3 linked regions of the Homo sapiens genome follow. The protein of the gene in region 1 purifies or fractionates together with the protein of each later gene. This does not show direct contact. Each region holds a gene or a part of one and is shown on either strand. Other genes may lie near its edges.

Region 1 (3,500 bases):
AAAACAAAGGAAATGTGAAAGCGTATGGACTTCAGTTACTTATAATGAATTAACATTGTTTATTAACTGCAACCAATGAATGACACTAATGTTAGGTGGTAATAAAGAACCAGAGTAGAACTAGGATAAGTTAAGAGTAGGGATTCAGGCTTGAAAATCTATTCCTAAGTGAACATAGGGAAATGAGAATCATATACATTATTGTTTAGTAAATACAGCTCTTCAAAATGACGCATACATATTTCTTAAAGCTCTAGCTAAAGACAAAGAAACTGAATATAAGAAAGATGATTTTTTACATGTTAAAAGACAATACATAATTTTATTTTACTAGGAGCAAAGACAATAAGGAGATTAAGAATAACTCCAAAACCAGATTCCTCCTTACCTCACATTCTGAGTAGGATTCCACCTTTCAGAAGGCAGTTCTCCACTCTGTGGGTCATCTACAGGCGGATGAAGAATCGAAATGCATACATCTCCATTCTACAAGACACAAACATTACATTCAGTAAATACTCAAAAAGTGATGTACAAAAAGGGACATCGGTTCTAAAGTTTCCTTTATTCCTAGAAACTGTTTCTTCATCAAAGGAGAAAACAATTCTGCTTTTTATGTTCAACATCAAAGATAAATAATAATTAAGCATTTTAAAAGTATTTATTTTGACCAATCTCCAAGGTATATTTTCTAGTGAGAAGACTTACTATTCCTATAGAACAATCCTGATGAAACAAACGATCCCTATGTTTACTTAGGAACATTAAAATATAATATTTATTTCGACCAATCTCCAAGGTATATTTTCTAGTGAGAAGACTTACTATTCCTATAGTACAATCCTGATAAAAAATTGACTGGGGCTGGGCGCGGTGTCTCACGCCTGTAATCCTAGCACTTGGGAGGCCAAGGCGGGTGGACCACCTGAGGTCAGGAGTTTGAGACCAGCATGGCGAAACCCCATCTCTACCAAAAATACAAAAATTGGCTGGGCGCGGTGGCTCACGCCTGTAATCCCAGCACTTTGGGAGACCAAGGTGGGCAGATCACAAGGTCAGGAGTTCGAGACCAGCCTGAACAACATGGTGAAACCCCGTCTCTACTAAAAATACAAAAATTAGCCGGGCGTGGTAGCACTCCCCTGTAATCCCAGCTACTCAGGAGGCTGGGGCAGGAGAATCGCTTGAACCTGGGAGGTGGGGGTTGCAGGGAGCCAAGATCGCGCCAATGCACTCCATCCTGGGCAACAGAGGGAGACTCCGTCTCAAAAAAACAAAAACAAAAGACAAAAATTAGCCGGGCGTGGTGGCACGCGCCTGTAATCCCAGCTACTCAGGAGGCTGAGGCAGGAGAATCGCTTGAACCCGGGAGGCGGAGGTTGCAGTGAGCCAAGATAGTGCTCCGGCCTGGGCAACACAATGAGACTCCATCTTAAAAAAAAAAAGACAAACATAATAAATCAAGACTCAATTGTCTTAGAAGCAGCCAAATATATATCCCTTTGTTTTCAGATATATCTGTGTACCTAGAGTACATAAAAAGGAAGAAAAAATATCTAACCTTGCTTAATATCTACTCAGATAGATGCTATGTCAATAACCATGACTTATATAAACCAAAAATATGCCTCGCAGCAAATGTTAACATCCTCAAGGTATGGTTAGAATGACTTCCCACTATGGCTATTATATTTTGCTTCATAAACTTAACACAACTTAATCCACAAGTACATTTAGGTTAATTCATACACATATGGATTGCCCACCATGTGCAATACAGAACACAATTCAATAGAAAAGATAAAGTTAGGTAAAATACAGTGACTTATCTCTTGGACTTAGCCTAACATGGAAGGTAAGATTTATTTATTTATTTAACTTCTTTCTGTCTTTAGAGATGGGAGTCTCACTATGTTACCTAGGCTGTAGTGCAGTGATTATGCATAAGACAACCATGGTGCACTGCAGCCACTAACTCCTGGCCTCAAGTGATCCTCACACCTCAGTAGTCCCATAGCTGGGACTCTAGGGTGTGCTACCACACACGACTTAAGATTTATATTTTTAAAAAACTGGAGGTATAACTATATAAAGTGCAAAAATCTTACATATACAACCCAAATTTAGACACATAGAAACTATATGAATATATATGTAACCATTATCAATATAAAATATTTTTAAAATAAAATTAATACAAAATATTATATTCTAACACACTGCCTTATGGTTAGATACCATAAGGCATGTAAAAAGTTACTACAGATAAAAGAAGAGAGAGGCCAGGCATGGTGGCTCACATCTGTAATCCCAGCACTTTGGGAGGCTGAGGCAGGCAGAGCACAAGGTCAAGAGTTTAAGACCAGCCTGGCCAGTATGATGAAACCCCATCTCTACTAAAAATACAAAAATTAACTGGGCGTGGTGGCACCTGTAATCGCAGCTACTCAGGAGGCTGAGGCAGGAGAATCCCTTGAACCCGGGAGGCAGAGGTTACAGTGAGCTGAGATCACGCCACTGCACTCCAGCCTGGGCGGCAGAGCGAGACTCCATCTCAAAACAAAAACAAAAAACAAAAAGAAGAGAGCCGGGCGTGGTGGCTCACGCCTGTAACCTCAGCACTTTGGGAAGCCAAGGCGGGCAGATCACCTGAGGTCAGGAGTTCGAGACCAGCCTGACTAACATGGAGAAAACCCATCTCTACTAAAAATACAAAATTAGCCAGGCGTGGTGGTGCATGCCTGTAATCCTAGCTACTCGAGAGGCTGAGGCAGGAGAATCACTTGAACCTGGGAGGTGGAGGTTGTGGTGAACCGAGATTGTGCCATTGCACTCCAGCTTGGGCAACAAGACCAAAACTCCATCTCAAAAAAAAAAAAAAAAAGAAAAAAGAAAAGAGAAACTTGGTATATTTGGGCAGTGAATGCGTGGGAGGTGGGGTGGAAGATAAAAGGCTTTGTTGTTGAGGAAGCTTTGAGATGAGCTTTCCTTTAATAATAACAATTTAAACAACCTATGGGAAATGTAGAAATGAGTTTTTCTGGCCAGGTGCAGTGGCTCACGCCTGTAATCCCAGCACTTTGGGAGGCCGAGGCAGGCAGATCACTTGAGGTCAGGAGTTCGAGACCAGCCTGACCAATATGATGAAACCCCATCTCTACTAAAAATACAAAAATTAGCCGGGCGTGGTGGCACGCACCTGTAATCCCAGCTACTCGGGAGGCTGAGACAGGAGAATCACTTGAACCCGGGAGGCGGAGGTTGCGGTGAGCCGAGATCACACCATTGTACTCCAGCCTGGGCAACAAAAGCGAAACTCTTGTCTCCAAAAAAAAAAAAGAGTTTTTCTGAATCCCAGCACTTTGGGAGGCCGAGGCCAGCGGATCACGAGGTCAGGAGATTGAGACCATCCTGGCTAACATGGTGAAACCCCGTCTCTACTAAAAATACAAAAAATTAGCCGGGCGTGGTGGCAGACGCCTGTAGTCCCAGCTACTCAG
Region 2 (3,500 bases), on another chromosome or scaffold:
ACATTAACTATATAAATATTAGCATAATACATATATAAGATTTTAATATATATGTTTAACATATATAGGTATATATGTGTTTAATGCATATATACATATATGTATGTGTGTATATATTTGTTATATAGTGAAATATATATTTGTTATATATTGAAATATATATATTTGTTATATACATACATACATACATGTTATATACACACATACATACACACACACACACAATAGGAAACTCCTAATCTGGTACAGAGATAAATATATTCTGCCAAAAAGAATGCTATGACAAACTGGCATTTATTAAAATGGGCTCTTTACCAGTAATTATTCTTGAATCAAAGAATGACACTTTGTTATCTGCTCTACCAAATAATGTCCACCTGAGAGCCAACTTTAAGCTTGGCCTGGTGTCCTACGTGTCTGCAAAAAACCCTCACATTTTCTAATTACTTCACAGCTTATAAATGAAACAGACTCTTCAGAAACCTATGCAGCTATATGTGCACCAGAACTTCATCACCCTGGGGGAGGAACCGCAAAAACTCAGCCCTATAATAGAAGGCACTGTCCTATGAATAAGCTAAAAATTAATTCTGTATCTGCATTTTAAAAAGGACACACTACCTCAAGTAAGATTTGTTATTTTCTCATTTTACAGCAAGAAGTTTTTTTTTTTTCTTTATGATAGTCCATCAAAAATGAATAGAGATCAAGTGGTCATTCTAACATTTGGACCAAAGCCAGGTCAGATCTGAAGGCAATGCAGAAAGGAGGCAGGAATGTGGGCCACACACCTGAAACACTAGGTCATTATCCTCCTTATAACATACCAGAAGGTAGTTCCCTGCCCAAAAGATAAACTCCAGACTCAGCTTAAGAAGCACAGCCCTTAAAATTTTAACCTCAGCCAACCTTTCCTCCTTTATTTAGTAAGAAAAATTATAGCTATTAACCTATTCTTATTGTTCCATAATATCAGTCTCTTATTGTATAAGCTACAATCAGTTCGGAATTGCTGCTGAGTTCCAAAGAGCCTGTAAGTGTCCAAGGCACTCCACAAACCAAGCAGTTGTCAAAAGGGATTTCAGTAAACACTACTCTCTAGATACCTTTCCAAAGGATTAACACTATGAGTCAGAAAATAGTTACCATTAACTACAGTGGTGGGATCGAATTTAACAACGTAATAATCCCTAAAGGAAAACACACTGCCTCCTTCTCATCTGTCGCTAGTCCATATGAAAAGTAGCAACGTCTGGTGGACAAGGGCAGCCTCAGAATGGGCTCTGGGGGACGGCACAGATTCCCACACACTGGACTTCCTCTGACTGGCTGATGGCAGGGATCCTGGCTTTAGGCGTGAGTATCTTTCTTTCTTTGCATCTTCCTACAATTTACAGTTTTTGTATAAATACAATGACTTATTTATTTATTTATTTTTTTTTTTTTTGAGATGGAGTCTCTTGCTTTGTTGCCCAGGCTGCAGTGCAGTGGCACGGTCTCGGCTCACTGCAACCTCTGCCTCCCAGGTTCAAGTGCTTCTCCTGTCTCAGCCTCCTGAGTAGCTGTGATTACAGGCAGCCGCCATCATGCCTGGCTAATTTTTTGTATTTTTAGTAAAGATGGGGTTTCACTGTGTTGGCCAGGCTGGTCTCGAACTCCTGACCTCAGGTGATCTGCCCACCTCGGCCTTCCAAAGTGCTGGGATTACAGGTGTGAGCCACCATGCCTGGCCTACAATGATGTTTTTCAAGTTTCTATTTTGCCATTTTAATATAGAACTTTTATAGAAAAAAAAATGTTTCTCTGAGAAGCAGTTTCTCAATTAACCTGGATAAACATATCTACTAAGACCATGAAGCCATAGACAGATAGCAATGTCCATCACAGGGGAAAACTGAACACAGTGGCGTGCTGTATAATGACATTTCCATTAACAACAGACAGCATCTACAACAGTGGTCCCATAAGGTTATAATGGAGTTGAACAATTCCTATCACCTAGTGACAATCTAACTGTTGGAACATTGTAGCAAAATGCATCACTCATGTGTGGTGTTGCTGGCGTACACTAACCTACTGCAGTGCCAGTCGTTGAAAAGTCTAGCACATTCAATTACATACAGTATGTAGTACTTGATATAATAATAAATGACTATGTTACTGGTTTATGTATTTACTCCACTACACTTTTTATCATTATTTTAGAGCGTACACCTACTTATGCAGGAAAAAATAAGTTAATTGTAAAACAGTCCTTCAGGAGGACTCCAGAAGAAGAAATTGTTATCACAGACAACAGCTCCACACATGTTACTGCCCCCGAAGACCTTCCAGTGGGACAAGATGTGGAGGTGGATGACAGGGATAAGGATGATCCTGACCCTGTGCAGGCCAAGGCTAATGTGTGTGTGTTTGTGTCTTCATTTTTAACCAAAAAGTTTAAAGAAAAAAAAAGAAAGAAAAAACTTATAGAATAAGCATATAAAGAAAATATTTTTGTACAGCTATACAACATGTTTTCAGCTACATGTTATTACAAAGAGTGAAAAACTTTTAAAGAAGTTTATAAAGTCAAAAAGTTACAGTAAGCTCATTTATTACTGAAGAGAAGTATTTTTAGAATAAATTTAGTGTAGCCTAAGTGTACAATATTTACAAAGTCTATGGTACTGTACAGTAATGTTTTAGGCCTTCACTTTCACTTGCCACTTACTCACTGACTCACCCAGAGAAACTTCCAGTCCTGCGAGCTCCATTCACAGTAAGTGCCCCATACAGGTGGACCCTTTTTTTAGTATTTTATACAGTATTTCTACTATCCCTTTTCTGTGTTTAGATGTGTTCAGATACACACATACTTTGGTGTTACAAGATTCTCTTGTGCTTAGAGATTCAGGACAGTAGCATGCTGTATAGGTTTGCACCCTAGGAACAATAGGCCATACCCATATAGCTTAGGGTATGAAGCTATACAGGTGTATAATACACTGTACCATCCAGGTTTGTGTAATTCACTCTATGATGTTCATATGATGACAAAATTGCCCCATGGGAGATTTCTCAGACCATAACCTAGTCATTAACTGATGCATGACTGTATATCATATATTAGCTCTAAAAACCAAACCTATAAGTGAACTGACAAAAGTTGCCATAGATCCTAACAGCCTTTGAGACGGATGGGGGGCAGACAGAGCTTGGCACACTTCAGCCGTTCACAGCTCCCAATCAACCAGTCAGGATGCTGGTGCCATATAATTAGGAGAGAAAGCTAAATCACCGAGGACTCAGCCAAAAGCAAACCATGGTGGTGAGGAGGAAGGTGAAGGAAAAGGGTGGTATGCAACACAGTGGGACACCTTGCCTTATTCCCCATGTTTTTTGAGGCTGGTCCTGAGAAGTTTAAGAGAGAAAGACTCAGAAGCATGCATTGGAGGCCAGTTTTCTTGTGGTCCCAGTGATGGTGGCTCTTGTGACGCCTGGATGAGGAGGGAGAGCCT
Region 3 (3,500 bases), on another chromosome or scaffold:
TGTATTTTTAGTAGAGACGGTGTTTCACCGAGTTAGCCAGGATGGTCTCGATCTCCTGACCTCGTGATCCGCCCGCCTCAGCCTCCCAAAGTGCTGGGATTACAGGCGTGAGCCACCTCGCCCAGCACTAATGAAATTTAATGTAATTATTTTATATAATTGGAGAGAGTTGTTTCTAGAGCCTTTAAAAACATAATATGGTACAAACTCAAACCATTTATCTTTCCCTGCCATCATTTTACTTGTGTGTTTGTATGTGATATAAATATTTGCTTTTGTACATATTAATTTCCCGAATTGTGAAGTCTTACTATGTGCTTGAATGCTTGAAGAAATTTTAAATTGGATTTTGTAAAAAGAAAAATAAAATTGTTATTTCCTCCTTTTTTCAGAAATTTTCGTTGTGATTGTGGAAACAGCAAGTTTAAAAATTTGGAATGCAAATTACTTCCTGTAAGTAAGCACTGTAACTATAAATGCATTTAGAGCAGCTGAGGTTAATATTTGCCAGAGTGGGTAAAAAAACAAATACCTGTATTTTCCAAAAAAAGAAGTTCTTATGCTTATTCTTTGCAGATGGCCATTTCATTTTTTACTTTGTTAGAAAAACTATATAAACTGTTGAGAGCCTACAAGATAGATGGTAATTAATATGAAAGGTTTGGGGGAGAGATGTACTTGAAAGTAATTCAGGTTTAATTATATTGGTTGTACTTATTCTCTGAGGCTTTTAAATCAGCGGATATGACTTAAAAACAATAAATAGGGTCAAGAGATCGAGACCATCCTGGCCAACATGGTGAAACCCTGTCTCTACTAAAAATACAAAAATTAGCTGGGCATGGTGGCACCCAGTCATCTACTCGGTCAGCTACTTGGGAGGCTGAGGCAGGAGAATTGCTTGAACCCAGGAGGCGGAGGTTGCAGTGAGCCGAGATTGCGCCACTGCACTCCAGCTGGCAACAGAGCAAGACTCCATCTCAAAACAAACAAACAAAAACAATAAATAGGCCGGGCACGGTGGCTCACACCTGTAATCCTAGCACTTTGGGAGGCCGAGGCAGGTGGATCACTTGAGGTCAGGAGTTCAAAACCAGCTTGGCCATCATGGTGAAACCCCCCCGTACTAAAAATACAAAAAATTATCTGGGCATGGTGGTGCGTGCCTGTAATCCCAGCTACTTGGGAGGCTGAGGCAGGAGAATCGCTTGAACCCAGGAGGCGGAGGTTGCAGTTACCCGAGATTGTGCCACCGCACTCCAGCCTGGGCGACAGAGCGAGACTCCATCTCAAAAAAAAAAGAAAAAGAAAAACCAATAAATAAGGCTGGGCGTGGTGGCTCATACCTGTAATCCCAACACTTTGGGAGGCCTAGGTGGGAGAATGGCTTGAACCCAGACCAGCCTGGGCATCATAGTGAGACCCCATCTCTATCAAAAAGAAAAAAGAAGTACCTTGAAATTCCAGGCCAATATCAGTTCACATAGATTGATAATTAATATTTATGATTAACTTTTATCTCCATTTTATTGAATAGGTGTATTTAATTTCTCCTAATTACCACAAAAAAAAACAAAAAAAAATTATTTTTTCCCTGTGTCCTGAAAAAAGTATCCCTTTAGTGGTAGTGAGTTTTTTTTTTCCTACTTTGAAAATTAAAGATCAGCCTCTTGGGGGAAATAATGTGGAAATGTATTGAATGCATAAATTTTATAATGTGTGAAATTATAGTTAAAATTAGACCATATTATTATTGAAATCAATATTATATTTCAGGACAAAGCAAAGGTAAATTCTGGCAATAAGTACAATGACAACTTTTTTGGATTGTACTGCATTTGCAAGAGACCTTATCCTGATCCTGAAGACGAGGTAAGAGAATTGGAAGTTAAACCTGGGGGTGTGTCCCCTCTAGCCTTGATTCCTCAACTGCTTGTCATATCCGAGCCTCTGGCTCTTCAAGAGGCAGTGTGGGATGGTGAAAGGGCTCTAGATTTATCTTTTCTTATGAATCTGGGTTGGATCTATAATTGGTACACATCTCAACCATTCTTTTCATTTTTACATCATAAGAATGAAATATTGGAGAGGACTTTCCCAAAGCCAGAGCTTCTTCCCTTCCTCTCCTTCCCTGACTGCCTCCCCCAGTCCCCAAACACTTTCTAAGAAATGACCTTCAACTTCTTTTGTCTCTTTACGGAAAAAAATGGGGTATACAAACAGCATCCTCTTAAAAACGTCAATGAGAAGTATATGCAAAATTCAAAACGAGTTCTTCCTCACTTCTGCACCTCTTACCTCCCAGGCATAACCACTGTTAACACTTTTGGTGTGTATATTTTTAGTCCTTTTTCTGTGCACATAGAAGTGTTTGAGTGAATGTGTGTTTCAATGTGTAGTTTCCTTTCTATTAACAGAAGTGAAAATTCTGTACACTCACTTCTGCAGCTGGCTTTTCTCACCAGTATATCATAGACATTCTTTCATGTCAACAAAACACACTTACCCCCTTCTAACTGCTGCAGAGTATCCTATAATTTCATATGCCATAAGTTAGTCAACCTGATTGTTCTTCTACAGCAGAATGGCATTGTGTAATTTTTCAATATTATAAAGAAAGCTAGAGTGAACATCCTCATACAGTAATACAACTGAGTATACTCCAAGTATTTATGTAGAATGGATCGGTATAATTGACGGATCAAAGTGTATTTGTGGCATTTAAAATTGTGATTGGCTGGGCACTGTGGCTTATGCCTGTAGTCCTGGCTACGCGGGAGGCTGAGACACAAGAATCACTTGAACCCATGGGGCAGAGGTTGCAGTAAGCTGGGATTGCGGCACTGCACTCCAGCCTGGGTGACAGAGCGAGACCCTGTCTCAAAAAATAATAATCATAATAAATAATAAAATAAAATTGTGATCATATCTGCCAAAAAAGTTGTACCAGCAACAGTATATGATAGTGTTTTTTCCCCAACACTTTTGTCAACCTTGCATATTACCAGTTCTTGAAAATTTTGCCATTCTGATAAATGAAGAATAGTATCTTTTTTTTCATTTTTTTTTTCAGACGGAGTCTCGCTCTGTCACCCAGGCTGGAATGCAGTGGCGCGATCTCGGCTCACTGCAAGTTCCACCTCCCGGGTTCATGCCATTCTCCTGCCTCAGCCTCCTGAGTAGCTGGGACTACAGGTGCCCGCCACCACGCCCAGCTAATTTTTTGTAATTTTAGTAGAGTCAGGGTTTCACCGTGTTAGCCAGGATGGTCTCAATCTCCTGACCTCATGATCCGCCTGCCTCGGGCTCCCAAAGTGCTGGGATTACAGGCGTGAGCCACCGCGCCCAGCCAAAGAATAGTATCTTAAATTTTTTTTTCTTTCCCTGATGATAAGTGAGGTTATGCATCTTTTCATAAGTTCATTGGACATCCATAATAACCTTCTCTCTGAATTGTCCTTTCATATCCTCAGTCCATGTTTTGATTGGTTTGGGTTTTG

The links. The genes of interacting proteins can lie anywhere in the genome.
Region 2: the proteins of UBE2R2 (region 1) and TGFBRAP1 purify together in Homo sapiens (co-immunoprecipitation; one large-scale study listed by IntAct). This does not show direct contact.
Region 3: the proteins of UBE2R2 (region 1) and UBR7 fractionate together in Homo sapiens (co-fractionation; one large-scale study listed by BioGRID). This does not show direct contact.

The regions. Positions count from the first base shown.
Region 1 is NC_000009.12:33,897,160-33,900,659, reverse strand, and holds part of UBE2R2 (ubiquitin-conjugating enzyme E2 R2), read right to left. Parts: intron 487-3,500; coding exon 389-486; intron 1-388. UniProt on the Homo sapiens protein: E2 ubiquitin-conjugating enzyme that accepts ubiquitin from an E1 ubiquitin-activating protein, and catalyzes its covalent attachment to other proteins by an E3 ubiquitin-protein ligase complex.
Region 2 is NC_000002.12:105,319,736-105,323,235, forward strand, and holds part of TGFBRAP1 (transforming growth factor-beta receptor-associated protein 1), read right to left. Parts: intron 1-3,500. UniProt on the Homo sapiens protein: Plays a role in the TGF-beta/activin signaling pathway. It associates with inactive heteromeric TGF-beta and activin receptor complexes, mainly through the type II receptor, and is released upon activation of signaling.
Region 3 is NC_000014.9:93,210,256-93,213,755, forward strand, and holds part of UBR7 (putative E3 ubiquitin-protein ligase UBR7), read left to right. Parts: intron 1-392; coding exon 393-453; intron 454-1,776; coding exon 1,777-1,872; intron 1,873-3,500. UniProt on the Homo sapiens protein: E3 ubiquitin-protein ligase which is a component of the N-end rule pathway. Recognizes and binds to proteins bearing specific N-terminal residues that are destabilizing according to the N-end rule, leading to their ubiquitination and subsequent degradation.